Regions from separate parts of the Homo sapiens genome. Here region 1 is linked to region 2. The links come from fine-mapping of genetic effects on gene expression. Tissue or cell type: whole blood. Region 2 holds a variant in brackets; the other region holds the start of a gene. All regions are shown on one strand. Distances are from middle to middle.

Region 1 (8,100 bases), 160 kb after region 2:
AAACACATGGATATGTCAACTCTCATAGAAATTCAAAAGTATCTTTCTATAAAGCTCTACCAAGTTCTAGGCAAAGAGATAAAATTTATGTTCCCAAACCTGTTTATATAGTTAATTGTGTTTATGCTGTGCTTGGTAATTTCCTTATCAAGATAATTAAATGTTTCAACATGAGTTGCCTCATTGAAGAGGTAATGACCAACATAAAAATACATGTTACTCTCAATCAACTTTGACTATTCAAAACTTTTGTTTATACAATGGATTTGGCCAACTTAGACACAATGTGTGCTATGAAAAGTTAAACCCAATTGACTATGCTTTAAATGTTTCTCATATGCTGACACAGAGGGATTATGTTGTTTGTGAACAGATATATTTTATTTAAAACTATGTGTTTGATGATCAGGCACAGTAGCTCACACCTGTAATCCCAGGACTTTGGGAAGCTGAGGTGGGCGGATCACCTAAGGTCAGGAGTTTGAGACCCACCTGGCCAATATGGTGAAACCCCGTCTCTACTAAAAATATAAAAATTAGCCAGGCGTGGTGGTGCATGCCTGTAATCCCAGCTACTCAGGAGGCTAAAGTAGGAGAATTGCTTGAACCAGGGAGGTGGAGGTTGTAGTGAGCCGAGATTGCGCCACTGCACTCCAGCCTGGTAACAGAGCGAGACTCCATCTCAAAAAATAAAAAAAATCTATGTGCTTGTTGCTTAGTCTTCATTTGTAAACAAGAAAACTTTATTAAATCTCTGAGTGAGGTCTTCAGTCACAAAACAAAGTAAAGATAATATATTCTCTTAGAATTCAAATTGGAAACCATGGTTATCTTAGCACCATATGTAAACCACCTGAGGTATATGGTATATATGTATGTTTTATGTGTCCGTCTGTATGTGTATAGACATATATAGTCAGCCCTCCATAACCATGAGTTCTGAATCTGTGGATTCAACCAGGCTCAGATTGAAAATATTCAAGGAAAAAAAAAACTATGTTTGTACTGAACACGTACAGATGGTTTTTTGTCATTATTCCCTAAACAATACAGCACAACAACTATTTACACAGCACTAACATTGCACCAGGTATTGTAATCTAGAGATTATAGTCTAAGTATTATAATCACAGAGACAACTTATATATGGGAGGATATGTGTAGGTTATATGCAAATACTACACCATTTGTATGAGGGACTTGAGCATCTATGGACTTTAGTATCCAATGGAGGTCCTGGAACCAATTCCCCACTGATACTGAGGGAATATGAATCCATGAAACAAAATCATATTTTCTAAGGCCCTAGACATTTCATGAGTTTTTTTTAAGTCTGGGGCAAAAAAAAAAAAAAGAAAAAGAAAAGAAAAATTAATAACAACAGCAGCAAGCAGAATCTACATTTCATGAGCGCAAATATTTTTGCTGGTTTGTCTGCTATATCCCCAACACCTAAAACAGTGCACAGCACACAGCAGCTACGCAATAAATATTTGCTGAATGACGGAAGGAAAACTATTCCTGAATGCTTACTGTATGTTCAGGACTATTCTCAGTGCTTTACACTAATTATCTCATTTAGTCATTACAACTCTGTAACAGGTATTATCATAATCCCCATGTAGAGAAAAGGACATCAAGGCACATAAAATGGTTAAGCTACTGCCCAGAATTATTCTGCTAGTAATGGTAGCATAGGGATAATAAATATAAAATCTGAATATTAACAATCAAAGCTTTAAAACATCATTACACACATAAAAAAGAAAATATCTGGAATTTGCCTGATCTTGCACTGTATTTTCAGAAAAACATGAAGATCTCCAAATACATGTAAACAACATGCTCTAACTAGTACTCATTAAATTGAAACCAAAGGATTTATTGAGAATCTACTATGCGCATCACTGGTTTAGGATCTCATGAATAAAAAGGAAGTATAGGTTAAACATCTCTAATCTCAAAATCCAAAATCTGAAATGCTCCAAAATCAGAAATTTTTTGAGTGCCAATATAACACTCAGTGGAGACACTCATCAGAGCATTCTGGATTTCAGATACTCAGATTAGCAATAGTCAGTGAGTATGTATTCTGCAAATATTCCAAAATCCAAAAAAATCTGAAATCCAAAACACTTCTGGTTCCGAGCATTGCAAAGAAGGTATACTCAACCTGTATATGTCATAGTCCTCGTACTCAAGTTTTACATATTATTTTGTTAACCAAACGTTGTATATGTTAAAATTAAGTGAATTTAAAATAAATAAATATACTTTCCAGAAAGTATTTCACTGAATCTTCAGTATTTCTATTCCAGGACACACTTATCTGAGGAAAATAAAAATAATATACCTGGTTCAGTAAGTAAAGAATCTTTGTAAGAATATGCAAACATCTTCTTGGATTGATTGGAGTTTCATTGAATATACGAGCCTATGAAAAAACATAAAAAACATTGCTACTTTTCTACCTTTTCTATCACAGATTATAGCAAATCAACTTTAATACAGACTATTTTTAATCACGGTATCCAAAGAACATTGTCTATAGTTCTCAATTTACTAAGGTATCTGATAAATTATTACACGTGGCCTTGATTTTCCATCCTATACTTTCTCATTCCCTTAGGTTGACTACTTCAACTTTATGGGCTATACCAGTTAAATAAGGATCACAATACTTATCTATATCATACTAATACAATGAGATTAATACAGATAACTGATTTCAATAACCTTGCACTAAACACCTGTTCTTACATTTAAAATTCCCAACCTGTGACAGTCTTCATGTCTTTGCATTTCTATAAGCTCCAAATTCTCCTGTGACAAGTAACCCCTCTTTCTTTTCCCTCAAATCTATATTCCCTAAACTCTGTTACGTTTCTTGTTTTGCATGTCGTGATCACAGCAGCCCAGGGATTCTCTGCCCACCACTCTAAAACAGAATAGAAAAGAAAGGGCACAAGATACTTCCCAGTCATACCTCCTGTAAAACAGCACTCTTCTCCAGATGCTGGAAAGGATTGGAGCCACTACCTATTTATAAAACAAAACAAAAAAATGTCCTGAACAGCTGTTCTACACAAACTTATATACTTTCCAGAGAAGGGTACTGAATGCTTGGGAAGTGAACACTTGGATGGCACAGTGATAATCATGGCTAATACGCATACGAACTGAATGAAATCATTTTGATCCCGGCTCTGTCACTGCCATACTCGAAGAGCTGAGACTTCTCTTTCGCAGCAACCCTCTCCAAAATGAGTGTCTTCTTTCCCTGCCCTCTTTTTCCATGAATGTTAAAAATGTGTCATTTCCACAACAACGAAGATTAATGAGATTGTAGTAGGGTGCTTTTGATTTCCTTAGGTAAGCAGTATTTTATGTGTTTCTAACACTTAAGGAGAGGCAGAAACGAAGTTTCCCAGAGAATCATGCAGGCGTAAAGGTGCAAGAGGCCATGGAGGTTGACTAACCCAACCCCCTCTCACACTGTGGGAGATGCTACCAAACACTGAGAATTTTTTTCTTTTTGAGGATGCTTGGCATCTTCCCCATTTGCTCTGGACCAAAGACGGGCATCAAGACGCAGGTCACTTCTGGACACCTGAGCATTCAACGAGCTGTGTCCCACGGGACAGTCTTGCCCCCGGGGACCTGGACAGAGCCGGTGACCCCAGGAAAACGATAAGGTACCAGGCACCTGAACGTTCCTCCACACACACCCTGTGCCGTCGACCCCAGCCCCGGGAACAGGGTGCTCCCACTAGGGGTCCGACCCTACCAGCACCCCTGGACGCGGAGACGCGCGCACGCCCTCGGCCCCCGCCGGAGGCCCGCGCGCAGGGGAGGAGGCGGCTCGGAGGGGCTGCGCCGCAAGAGGGGCGGGAACGGGGCGCGCGCGGGCGCCGGGGCGGGAGCGCGCGGCCCGAAGGGAGGCTCCGGCGCCCGGGGGAGGGGCTACGGGCAGGCCCCGGGCAGCCGCGAGGGGAGGGGAGGGGCCGGCTCCAGCTCCGGCCCCCTGGCACGGCGGCGCCCACGCCCCCAGCCCCGCCGGCCTGAAAGCAGGTGGCGGCGGGCGGGGGAAGGGGCGTCCCGCGGCTGAGGGTGGGCCTCGGAAGCCCCGCGCGTACCAGACTCCTCGTCCTTCTTGTCGAATTTTTTAATCATCTTGGACGACTTCCCAGCGCCCAGACCCACCGCAACCGTCCCAGGCGCCGCAGCCGGCGAGCGGAAGAGGCTGCAGGAAGGCCGGCCCCGCGCTCTCACGCCGGTTGGGCCGCCGCGCCTTCACTCGGGGCCAAGGCCCGCCCTCCCCGGCCGCCCTCGGCCCCCGGGACGCAGCCACGCCCCCTTCTCCTCTTGCGGCCCGCCGGAGACTTCGGCTCGACCCTCCCGGCTTGCGACCCGGGAGCCCACGCCCGCAGCAGCAGGAATGTGGTTTTATTTGGGTGGCGACTTCTGCGGACCCCTCAGTCTCAAGAGAGCGAGGCGGGAGGACTGAGGGGTCTGTGTTCACCCGATGACCGTGGCCTTTTTGATAATCCACTGCGGGGCCCTCCCGTTGCGGAAGGCGCTCTCCCCGGGCGCGGTTCTGGTGGGCATGTCTTCCAAGAGCGATGCGAGTGTCAGTGGTTCCCGAATCACTTTGGAAATTGGCCTTTCACTCGCTGACTTCTTGGAAGCTACGACAAAGCACAGGCACCCTGGTGAATGTGGCTTTTCAGAAGTACTCGAAGGATACTTAATGTGAGATGTAAAGGAGACGCACTTGGAGGGACCAGAGGCTGGTCTTTAGAGGGTAGATTTTGGACCGTGTAATACCATTCCCAACCTATTTTATAATTTTTGGATTCCTTCATTTCATCAAAACCCAGTGGAAAATTCATTGCCAGTTTAGAGTCTTCCTTGTTCAAGCCTATTTCTTTCAATGATTCCATCTGAAACCATATTGACACTTAAGAAACTCACTAAATTAACGTGCATTCATTCCTAACTCATGTTCCTCTTTTTCTCAGAGTGTATGCTGGCTTTCTGTTCTCTTGTCTAAGAGTGTAGCTAAGAAACTTTGTCTGCCTTTGGCTTCACTGGCATAACTTGTTTAGAAATGTAAATTGGGTCTATACTCAACAGGATCGTGCCCCTGCAAAATTAGAGAAATTCTAACCTAGATTACATTCTACATCCTAGAGAAATTCTTTCCCTGAAATACAGATTTAAGATGAACTGTTGATATCCTACATATGGTATCATTTAAGATTTAACTCCGACTTGACTAAATGTACTATTAACTACTATGTTTGCTTTATATGGCTTGTAAAGGTCAAGTCATACTTTGTAGGTGGAGTTTTCTTTGAAGGAAATAGAAGTCTGCACTCATTTATTCTGGGGGTGAAAATAAACAGGCTTTGGGGAAGGAAACATCCTCTTCCTCTTCCTTGGCCCAAGGGTATTGGGAACCTAGGCAGAGACAGTGTAGATAATAGGCCCAGAGGTTCTCAAGGTGGGTAATGCCCCGGAGACCTGCTGAGAAGTAGAAGGACCTGAGTTCAGATTTGGGGCTGACCCTAAGACTAGCCCCTTGTAAAGCAAGATCAATCATTCTCTGCTGTTCTTCAGCTTTTCTGTATATCTATGAAGTTTTGTTTAATACCACAGGTTGTTTTTAGCTGTGCAGTATTTACGGAGTTAAGAGCATCAGTAGGTGGAAATGGGATGGGATGTGGTGGCAGATAGGTATAGCAGGAGCAGAGAAGCCTGAAGAAGCCAGTTAAGGGATGGTATAATATGACCCCAGGCCTTCGGTATCAGGACTATTTGGACTGAGGATGGCTGGCAGACGGGTTGAGCAATCACTGCAATGGCTTTGTGGGACAGGCAAGGATACCTTAGGGAGTCTCAGGAATTGTTTGAGGAGAGAAACCCAGTAGGAGAAATGGACCTTATCTTAAAACCATGAGCTGGTGAAGTCTGAGGACCCACCAATTATATATATCTAATACACAAATGTGTACTCAGTGCCCTGAAATTCTTCATTGGGTCCAAACTGCCTACTGGATAAAACCCAAACCTTTATTTAAATAATATTTAAGGCATTGTGGTATTTTCGATTTCTTGTTATTGTTGTTTGTTTGTTTTTCAGACAGGGTCTCACTCTGTTACCCAGGCTGGAGTGCAATGGCATAATCACAGCTAACTGCAACCTTGAACTCCTAGGTTCAAGCAATCCTCCTTCCTCAAGCCCCCCAAGTAGCTCAGACTACAGGTGCATGCCGCCACACCCTGTTAAATTTTTTTAAATTATTTTTTGTAGAGACAGGATCTCACTATGTTGCCCAGGCTAGTGTCAAGCCCCTGGCCTCCAGCAATCCTCCTGCCCCAGCCTCCCAAACTGCTAGGATTACGGACACGCCCAGCCTGTCAAGGCCTTTTATGATCTGTTTCATCTCTTTCACATATTGAAAGTGATATTGTTGGTGCTTGGTAAGTGTCAGACACTTAGTAGGAACCCTTGAAATACTGTTAAATAAATGATAATATGTGAGGAGGATTCTCATTGTACCCTCTGCCATACAACCTTATTCCAAGCCCCTTCTACCCCATTCCCTACCCCAATCCCAGAGACTTTTGTACCTCTAAGACACACAGACTTATCCTTTGGCCCTTTTAGAGCAGTTTTTTCTTCAAAGTATAATATGCATACCACTGGGTGGTTCTAGGTGGTACATAGATAAACATTTTAAAATTTCATTATTATAAATTTGATATAAGTGTTTCAGAAAAGCATATAATTTGTACATCAAAACCATGATATCAATGATATAGTATTAATTAGGACAAGATTTTTTAAAAATCCTTTTAAAAAATGCTAAGTAAATTAACAGCAAATAATACATCAATATGGCAAAAACTATTAAAGTGCTGGGTGATATAGCTTAGTAAACACTGCTAGAGCTTTCTTGAAATTTGAGGATTTAAACAGGGTCCAGAGCTTTGCACCTTTTGAGCCTCTATTTGTTGTTAACTTCCATGCTATAGGGAAAAATAGTCTCCAGGACTACCACGAGAGAAGCCAGTTTGCCACATCTATAATCCTCATGGATTGTATCTCCAGCCCAAATCTCAGTCCAGTAAGCCTTTGCTTTGAAAGAGAGGAGCTTACCATCTTTCCTCATATCTCTCTCATGGACTGGAGCAAAGGTGAGCTGAGGGTACATTTTCTTCTGTGTCCTCAAAGCGTAGACTTTTGAATACTTCCCTTCGCTCTTGAAATCATTGTCAGTGGAAAACCTTAACAAAGAAAGTTCTTTGTTTAGTAGATCCTAGGGCAGGGGGATTCATGGAACTATTCACTTTATTTTATTTTATTTTATTTTATTTTATTTTATTTTATTTTATGTATTTATTTTGAGACACAAGTCTTGTTCTGTCACCCAAGCTGGAGTGCAGTGGCATGATCTTGGTTCACTGCAACCTCTGCCTCCCAGGTTCAAGCGATTCTCCTGCCTCAGCCTCCCAAGTAGCTGGGATTACAGGCACTTGCCACCACGCCTGGCTAATTTTTGTATTTTTAGTAGAGACGGTTTTCACCATGTTGGCCAGGCTGGTCTCGAACTCCTGAGCTCAAGTGATCTGCCCACCTTGGCCTCCTGAAGTGCTGGGATTACAGGCATGAGACACCGCGCCCAGCCCCACCATTCACTTTAAAGTTGGCTACATTCTCAGAGAAGACAAGACAATGATAGGAGCCTGTTGATTGGTGCCAAGTAGGAATATTGTTCCGTGACAAGGGATGCTTCTGAACTTAACACTGTAAACCTTTGGAGGAACTCCAGAATCTCTTCTGTCCTCTCTAAACTACACATAGGCTGCTCTTGTAAGTAGTTTCACATAAAACCTCTTTTGTCTAATGTGTTCTCATAGCACATGGTTCCTGTGATATAGCGCCTAACTTGTATTGAGGGTACTTTTTTTTTTTTCCTGTTTCTTCAAAGCACAGACCTTGGAATATTTCCCCTCAATCTTGAAACCATTGCCAGTGCAAAACCTTAGTTTTGCATGACTGTTTCTCTTTGATTCATGTGTCAATGAGGTTAG
Region 2 (8,107 bases):
TCAGTGGGGAGTGCAAGGGAGACGTTTCCATCATTCCATCTGTACTCAGCACTGTGTTCCACATTTTCCAGTTAAACACACATGCCCTGTTGTCTGGGGTAGTGGTTCTCAAAAGCAGCCTACAAGCGGGTCAGGAAGGCAGTCTCACAAAGCATGAATGTAAAGTCTATTCCACGCTGTGGGTTACAGCAGTACAGAAATGATAACATGGGCAGACTGTTTCTCTATTGGTATGAAGAAAGCAGCAGAGAGGTACTTTTGGGGGCTTTTTGCCATGCCTATCAAAGGGGCCTAAATGTTGAAAAATAAATATTTTGAGAACCACTGCTGTAGGACCTGACCAAAAAAAAAAACAAAAAAAAAACCTGTGGTAAAAAGCATACAGATCATCAGATTAACATTGACCAATCTCATCAGCATCTCAATACTATCTTTAGATTGTGGACTGATGGCGGGTCCACAGATCACCAGAGAGAACTTGCTTTATCTGTCAACCTTCAGCCTAAAGTGAGTAGGTCAGTAATGAGTTTCTAGTATTGGTAAAGTCAGTGTCTTAAATGGAAAAGCAAGTGGGCAGTTGTATGTTTTCACACAAGTGGTGTTAAGTAATAAGAAATGGAGGTGGGGGTACATTTTTGGAAAGTGAAGTCTTTATAAAAAGTAAAGACAGTATTTTCTGAAATGTTTGAAGGAGGGGATTTAGCAAGCAGGGATGAAGAAAAGGCATTTAGGATCTTGTCTATGGTCTGGAAAAAGCTTATAGGTACAAAAAATATTAGATATTGGGAGAGTTAAAAAGTTATTTGGGGGATAGGCAAGGAGAGGAAAGAACAGGCTCAGATGTGAAGACCATATACGACAGATTGGGTAATAAGACTTTCATCTGCTCAGTCTTGACTTTAAATTCCATCCATTCATCCATCCACACATGTAGTGACTGTCAATACATGTTGACATTACACGTAAAGGTATAAGCTTATGTGCCAGACACTTGGATAAAAAGATGACTGAGACATGATCTCTGTCTCTAGGAGCTGTCTAGGAGTTAAATAAGTGTGTGGGCTGTGTGTGTGTGTGATCTATCTATGACTTTACAACTCAATGCCATAGATCCTTTAAGTTTTAAGAGAGTGCCATGTGAGGGTGCGGGATTAACAAATAGCCTGGGAAAACTGTAAAAAATGTGAAACGATATAATAGTTTAACTGGCTCTCAAAAGATGCAAAAGAGCTTTGGCAAGCAGAGGAAGATGTACAAACAGGCAAAAGGAAAGAGGCCAGAAAGTCCACCGGGCAGCTGGAAACAGTAAGAGGCATGCTAATGCCTAGGTGCTGAGAAGATAATTTGTTTAGGAATAAATTGTAAAATACCTTGTATTTCAAATGATTTTCCAACAGGCTCTGGTGAGCTGAGGCAGTCAAGAGATTGAAAGGTTAGAGATAAGCTAGATAAGGTGCCTAATTTAAGCCACTGGTGGGGACTATGAAGAATGGGTCTGAATTCAGAGAGCAGATGGATTCAACAGAATATGCTGAAAACAGACGATGGCAGTGGGTTTTCCCATATAGGAAAGAATGAACCTATCAAGCCTGCAGAATCAATTTCAATGCCATTAGGGGTTGAGAAAAGAACGACTGTGGTTTAATTAGGATAGGATTTTCTTCAGAGAGAAGGGGAAAGAAGTGAAAGTTAACACAAGGCCAGAACAGGTCAGGTGAGGCATTTTTTTTAAACCATGAAAGAGATACAGAATATGGTAGGGGAAAAGGTCATGATCAAGTTAGAATGAAGAGTCAGGAGAGACATTAATTATAGCAACCCAGTGTGGTTCCAATTAAGCAGAGAGGCTACAGCAAATGAGGAGGACAAAGAGACAACATCAGGTATGAAGGCAGATCACAGACTGGGCACAGGGGCTGAGTTTTATGTGGAGGTAAAGACAGAAGACACTTACATATAAGGACCTGATACAGAGAAAGAGATTAAGGAAGTAAATAGGAATGGTGTTAGTAGAGATAATGTTCCTGAAACCTTAGTGGGAATTTTTTTACTTAAATGGTTTGATTGATACAATGAGAGGTTACAGGGATCTAAGGAAGTCTAGGCAGTAATCTGTCGAAGCTGCTGGAGAGGATGACGAAATGGGGCGAGGAGGCAAGATGCGGGGGCCTTTCCATGGCAAGAAAATACTGAATGCACTGCCATAATGTAAATATGAGAGTTACACAGACAAAGCAAGGCAAATACCAAAGAGAATCAGGAAAGAATGCCCTGAAGATCTGCATTAAAACTGTTCTCTGAAATTAAGCTTGTCTTGTGAGGATTCACTGAAAATGAGAGTCAACCACTAAGGAGATTTGTATGAAAAGAACCCAGCGAATTAGAGAAAAGATAGATGCTGGCAGCTAAGACAGGAGAGGGACATGTGAGTTGGGCCAGGGTACAGAAAATGCAGTGTGGCAAAGGGCAGAGTGGGAAAGGTGGGAGGGAGCTGCCAGGTCTCAACCACCTGGGGGAGACCATGACAAAGTAAGAGACACTTATGAGGTATTTCCAGAAAGCTTTGTTAGAATAATAATTAAAGAAAAGGGTATGTCACTAGGGCAAAAGATTAGAAAGAAGGCAAAAGAGATGGATCTGTACAGGCTAACTGCAGCAGTCTATGCAGGTCTGGACTGAACTGAGAAGCAATGGGTGCAGCATAGTGTGTAGGACATCGAGGAAAGCTGGGCAGTGAGTGCCAAAATAAGCAATACACACCTACCTGGAAAATCGTGTTGAGTCTGTGGGAATGCTGTACAAATGGTGGGAGGGAGTTTTTCTCTAGGACAAATTCAGAAAGGGAAGGAGGAATGGTACTGGAAAGCAACATTAGAGTTGTCCTCAGATGAAAAGGAGTTGGTCACTAAGGAATGACACACATCAACAGGAAGGTAAGACAGCATTGCTGGGCCAAAAGTCATAAGAGAGTATGAAATAAGAGACTGGAAGCAAAGGAAAGAAAATATTACATAAGGAAGGGCCTACTGGCAGAGCAGGTGTGGAATAAAGATTTAGAATGGGGTATCCTGTCTAGGTCTAAATGGTCGGCTGCATGGGAAATACACAGAAAGGGTTAAGGAGCAAGGAATTCAGTAGGAGGCAGCAGCAGACTAGCTCTTAAAGCTTTTGAGGGAATGGCTAATTAAAGGACTTGCTTGATAGGAAAGTTATAAACTGATGAATGCTGATAAAAAGCTATAGATGGGCCGGGTGCAGTGGCTCACGCCTGTAATCCCAGCACTTTGGGAGGCTGAGGCAGGTGGATCACCTGAGGTTGGGAGTTCAAGACTAGCCTGGCCAACATGGTGAAACACTGTGTCTTCTAAAAAAAAAAAAAAAAAAAAAAAAATACAAAATTAGCCGGGCGTGGTGGCCCATGCTTGTAATCCCAGCTACTTGGGAGGCTGAGGTAGGAGAATCACTTGAACCCAGGAGGCAGAGGTTGTGGTAAGCCGAGTTGGTGAGCCTTGTTAACTCTCCTTGTTAATACACAACTCTCCTTGTTAATATACAACTCTGACAATTTAACATGAGCCAAGCCCCATTGCACTCCAGCCTGGGCAACAAGAGCAAAACTCCATCTAAAAAAAAAAAACAAAAAACAACAAAAAAGCTATAGATGGCAACTTTAGAAATATTAGGCTTGATTTATTAAGAGAGTGTGAACATGTAGTTTGTCCAGAGAATGGATTATTGCTACTAGATGGGGAATGGGTGATTATGAAGAGTGAAGTAAAAAAGTCTATATCTATTTCTGTAGAGATGGTAAGGCCGGGTGCAGTGGCTCACACTTGTAATTCCAGCATTTTGGGAGGCTGAGGCTGGCAGATCACTTGAGGTCAGGAGTTTGAGACCAGCCTGGCCAAGATGGTGAAACCCCGTCTCTACTAAAAATTTTTGTAAAAATACAAAAATTAGCTGGGCGTAGTGGCACATGCCTGTAATCCTGGAGGTTTCAGTGAGCCAAAATCACGCCACTGCACTCTAACCTGGGTGACAGAGTGAGTTTCCGTCTCAAAAAAAGAAAAAAGAGAGAGATGGCAAGTGAAAGGATGACTGACAGTTAAGATATCGTAGACTATTGCACAGTGTTCCACTGAAGTTGCCTAGAAGTTACTCTGCTATGTGAGGATTGGCTAAAAGTGACAGACATTTCCTAGGGAAACATGAATGAAAATATCACAGGGGAAGAGAAAGAGAAGATGGAGGCTGGAAGCTAAAAGATGAAAAGATGTAGGATTTAGGCTGGAGTGTGGAATATAAAGTGTGGGTAGGGGCTGGGCACGGTGGCTCATGCCTGTAATCCCAGCACTTCAGGGGACTGAGACAGGTGGATCATTTGAGGTCAGGAGTTTGATACCAGCCTCGCCAACATGGTGAAACCCCATCTCTACTAAAAATGCAAAAAGTAGCTGGGCGTGGTGGCAGGTGCCTGTGATCCCAGCTACTTGGGAGGCTGAGGCAGTAGAATCACTTGAGCCCGGGAGGTGGAGGATGCAGTGAGCCGAGATCAGGCCACACTGCACTCCAGCCTGGGTGACAAGAGTGAAATAATTCTGTCTAAAAAAAAAAAAAAA[A/T]AAATATATATATATATATATATATATATATATATATGTGTGTGTGTGTGTGTGTATATATATATATATATGTGTGTGTGTGTGTATATATATATATACACATATACATATATATGTATGGGTAGGGAAGGGCATTAAAGAGGGCCAGAATGAGGAACACCAGAAGATGGCAGAGCTGCATATGCAGTAGAGAGATGTGAGTTAAGCTGGGTTACAACCAAAGAAGGAAAGAGAATACAAAGAGTAAGTAGATAAATAAGAACTGGTGTCATGAGGAAGTGCCATCTGGGAATCTTTGCTTGAATGATGTTTGAAGCAACAAGTGTGACCAATAGAGTGAAAGGTCAAGGAGTTTAAATGGAATGGATTCTTGCCATAGGCAGTGGCAGGAACCCTATGAAGGTCTGGAATGAACTGAAAGTGCAAGTGTTTTCAGAGTAGTGTGGAGGTGACGAGGAAGAAAAGACTAAATTCATGAGAATGATACACAAGATGATAGCTGAAAAAACAAGTGACTAACAGTTGTTCTACTAGGGTCAACTGGGGAAAATAGTGGAAGAGCCTGCAGAAGAGACGGAGTCATTTGAAGATTGGCAGGTATTGACTGGAGGGATACGGCCCCATAAGTGTAAGATTAAATAAGGAGAGACTGGAAACTGTGTAAAGGGAGAACTATACAAAGAGTAGGTAAGCGTAGGTGGAGTGGCATGGACAGGTAAAATGAGGAAAGTGTTTCCCAGAATGGGAAATCTTGTAAACCCTTAAAAAATGTGGGTTTATTCAGTCAAATGTTGGCTCTTAATTGCAGACTTTGAAAAGCAGTAGATACAATGGAAGAAGAACAAGTGCTTGAAAAGTAATGCGAAGCTTTTGTGAGAAGTTTAATGAGAAGGATTAGAAGGAGATGGATTAAGATGAGCCCTAATAGGGCAGCACTTAAAGACACCAGGATAGATCTTTGAGTAGTTTGTAGAATGGATGACTAATATTGGAAGAGGAGTGGCTGGAGATCATGTTGGAAACCCATCTCAAGGGTGAAACTTCTTTGTTTCCAGGTACAGATGGTAGATGAAATTTTACTCTATATAATTAAGGGAGGGCAAATCACCAAAGGGGAGAAACAAATGAATATCATGTAAGTGCGGTATTAAAGTTACTCTTAGAAGTTACTCTGTCATGTGAAGATTTTCTACAGATGAGAGACAGACACTAGAGAGAATTTGGCTAGGAAGTGCCATTCAGGAGGAGACAGAGTCCATCTGAATGAAATATGGACAGCAGCTAAAAGAAGGGAGGCTGAAGATAAGGTAGCGTACATCTTTAGGGCAAGATAGGTAACAAGGAGAAAAGGAATAGGAGAAAACATTAAAGTTGACTCCAGATGAAAAGGTCATTTGAAGAATGGCAGGACTGACTGGAGAGACAGTCCCATATTTGGGCCAAAAGACATGAAGAGGGGTTAAAGCTAAGGGGAGCATTAAATAAACTAGATAATGATTCTGAAAAGGTGGCGTGGTAATAAGAAAGACCACAGCGCCATAAAGATGCCTGGAGAATCCTGCCAGATCTCAGAATGGGCCCAACTGGCCAAATTCAGTGGGTGTAAGGCCAGATTGCAGTGACTAGTATATGGGAGAGAAGGAAAGACCTGAATAGGAATGAGTCAGTAGACTCGCTCTTGATGCCTTAGTGGGAGATTTTTAATTAAAGGGCTTGGTTGAGGGAGAAGTTGAAGAGCAATGCTTCTTAGAATGTGTTACATGGCACTATCTAGGAATCTGTTAGAAATATGAATTCTTTTCCCCTCCCCCAGACCTAGTCAGTCAGAAACTCAGGGTGCATTAATCTGTTCTCACATTGCTATAAAGAAATACCTGGGACTGGGTAACTTATAAAGAAAAGAAGTCTAATTGGCTCAAGGTTCCACAGGCTGTACAGGAAGCATGGCTGAGGAAGCCTCAGGAAACTTACAATCATGGCGGCAGGTGAATGGTGGGGAGCCAGCACTTCACAGGAGAAAGATAGAGAGTGGGAGGAGGTACCACACACTGAAAACAGTCAGGTCGTGTAAGAACTCTATCACAAGAACAGCACCAAGGGGATGGTGCTAAACCATTTATGAGAAACTGGCCTCATGACCCAGTCACCTCCCACTAGGCCCTACCTCCAACACTGGGGATGACAGTTCGACATGAGATTTGAGTAGGGATACAGATCCAAACCACATCCTGGGGTAAGGCCCTGCAGCTTGTTTTAACCAGCTGCAGTTGGAGAACCACTGCTTTAGACAAAGGCAGGCTAGGAACAATTCTGATAAAGAGCCTCTGCTAGCAACTGTTGTGTTAGGGTCAGCTGAAAATTAAAAGAAGCAACTGAAGAGACTTGAATGAAAGGAGAGGAGAGATGGAGAGAATGGAGGTGATGGAGGGTACAAAAGGGAAGGGATAAATGAATGAGGCTGGAGGCTGAACTTGCAGCACAGTAAGCAGGCCAGTGAGGAAGGGCACTGAAGCATGACAGGATGAGGAATACTGGGACAGGGAGAGTAGCAACTCTGGTAGAGTGATTTTATGTTAATCCAGTCACAGCCACTCAAGTAGACAGAGGAAGGAGAGAACGTGGCTAGGTAAGAATTGAGGTTATGAGGGGTCACTGTTCAGGAAGCTGTGGATCTCAGATCCAGTGTGCAGTCTGAACAGTGAGTGTTGAGTGTGAGGGGTCTGTTTATCCAAAAGACAGTACTGAATCTATGGAACTGACATACACAGTCTCTGAATGAAGGAGGGATACTGAATATAGTTTTTATAAGGCAAAATAAAAAGGTGTACAATAGTGAAGTTAAAATTGCTTCCAGACGAGAAGGCATCACTTAGTATTGACCAAAAAAAGTGTCAATGATACTAACTGGAGGTATTTGGCACCATACTTGGGCGAAAGGTCATGATGGAAAATAAAGAAGCCAGGTTAGATGCTATCTAAGGGGAAGGGAAGGCTTATCTGAAGAGTAGAAAACTGGTTTTGAATGAGGGAGACAGTGGGGATATGAGGGGAGGAAACCTCAAAAAGAATATGTATCCATCACTATGAAAGGTTAGGCTATACAGGGGAAGCCTCCAAAGGGAAATCTGGAAAAATGTTCTGAGAGGGACATTAAGGATGTACTCAGAAATTAAGAAAACATATTAGGACTTGCCAAAAGTGAGAGAAGCAACTGAGGAGACTTATATGCAAAAATCGCAAAGAAGGAGAGAACAAAAGATGGAGGTTGGATGCTAAATAGGGAAAGAGAACGTGTGAATGAGGTAGGGGGCAGAACATGCAGTGCAGAAAAACAACAGATATGGAAGGGCATTAAAGAGGGCTAAATGGGAATATTAGGAAATGAGAGTTGGGAATTTGTCAGAGTTGTGTATTAACAAGGAGAGAGTAAGGTAAGAAGGTGGCAAAGTAAGAGCCAGGGCATAAGGTTTTGCTGTCCAGGAAGCTTT

What was found. PIP is the estimated chance that this variant, and not a neighbour inherited with it, causes the effect.
Region 1: COPG2 starts here. The variant in region 2 is fine-mapped to the expression of COPG2 in whole blood (INTERVAL, PIP above 0.99).

The regions. Positions count from the first base shown.
Region 1 is chr7:130,664,496-130,672,595 of GRCh38, forward strand. COPG2 (coat protein complex I subunit gamma 2) reads right to left here and starts at 4,253. Exons shown (of 24, transcript NM_012133.6): 1 at 4,137-4,253; 2 at 2,987-3,039; 3 at 2,354-2,434. The coding sequence starts at 4,173. It overlaps TSGA13 (testis specific 13), which reads right to left. Exons shown (of 8, transcript NM_052933.4): 7 at 7,166-7,293; 8 at 4,148-4,688. The coding sequence ends at 4,519. RefSeq lists an enhancer at 3,456-3,565 and silencers at 3,836-4,425, 4,516-4,625.
Region 2 is chr7:130,508,687-130,516,793 of GRCh38, forward strand. The region is part of intron 20 of COPG2 (coat protein complex I subunit gamma 2); the gene reads right to left. Among named protein-coding and RNA genes, the nearest start is that of MIR335, 17 kb to the left of the region's middle. The variant A/T (reference allele first, on the strand shown) is at 4,620.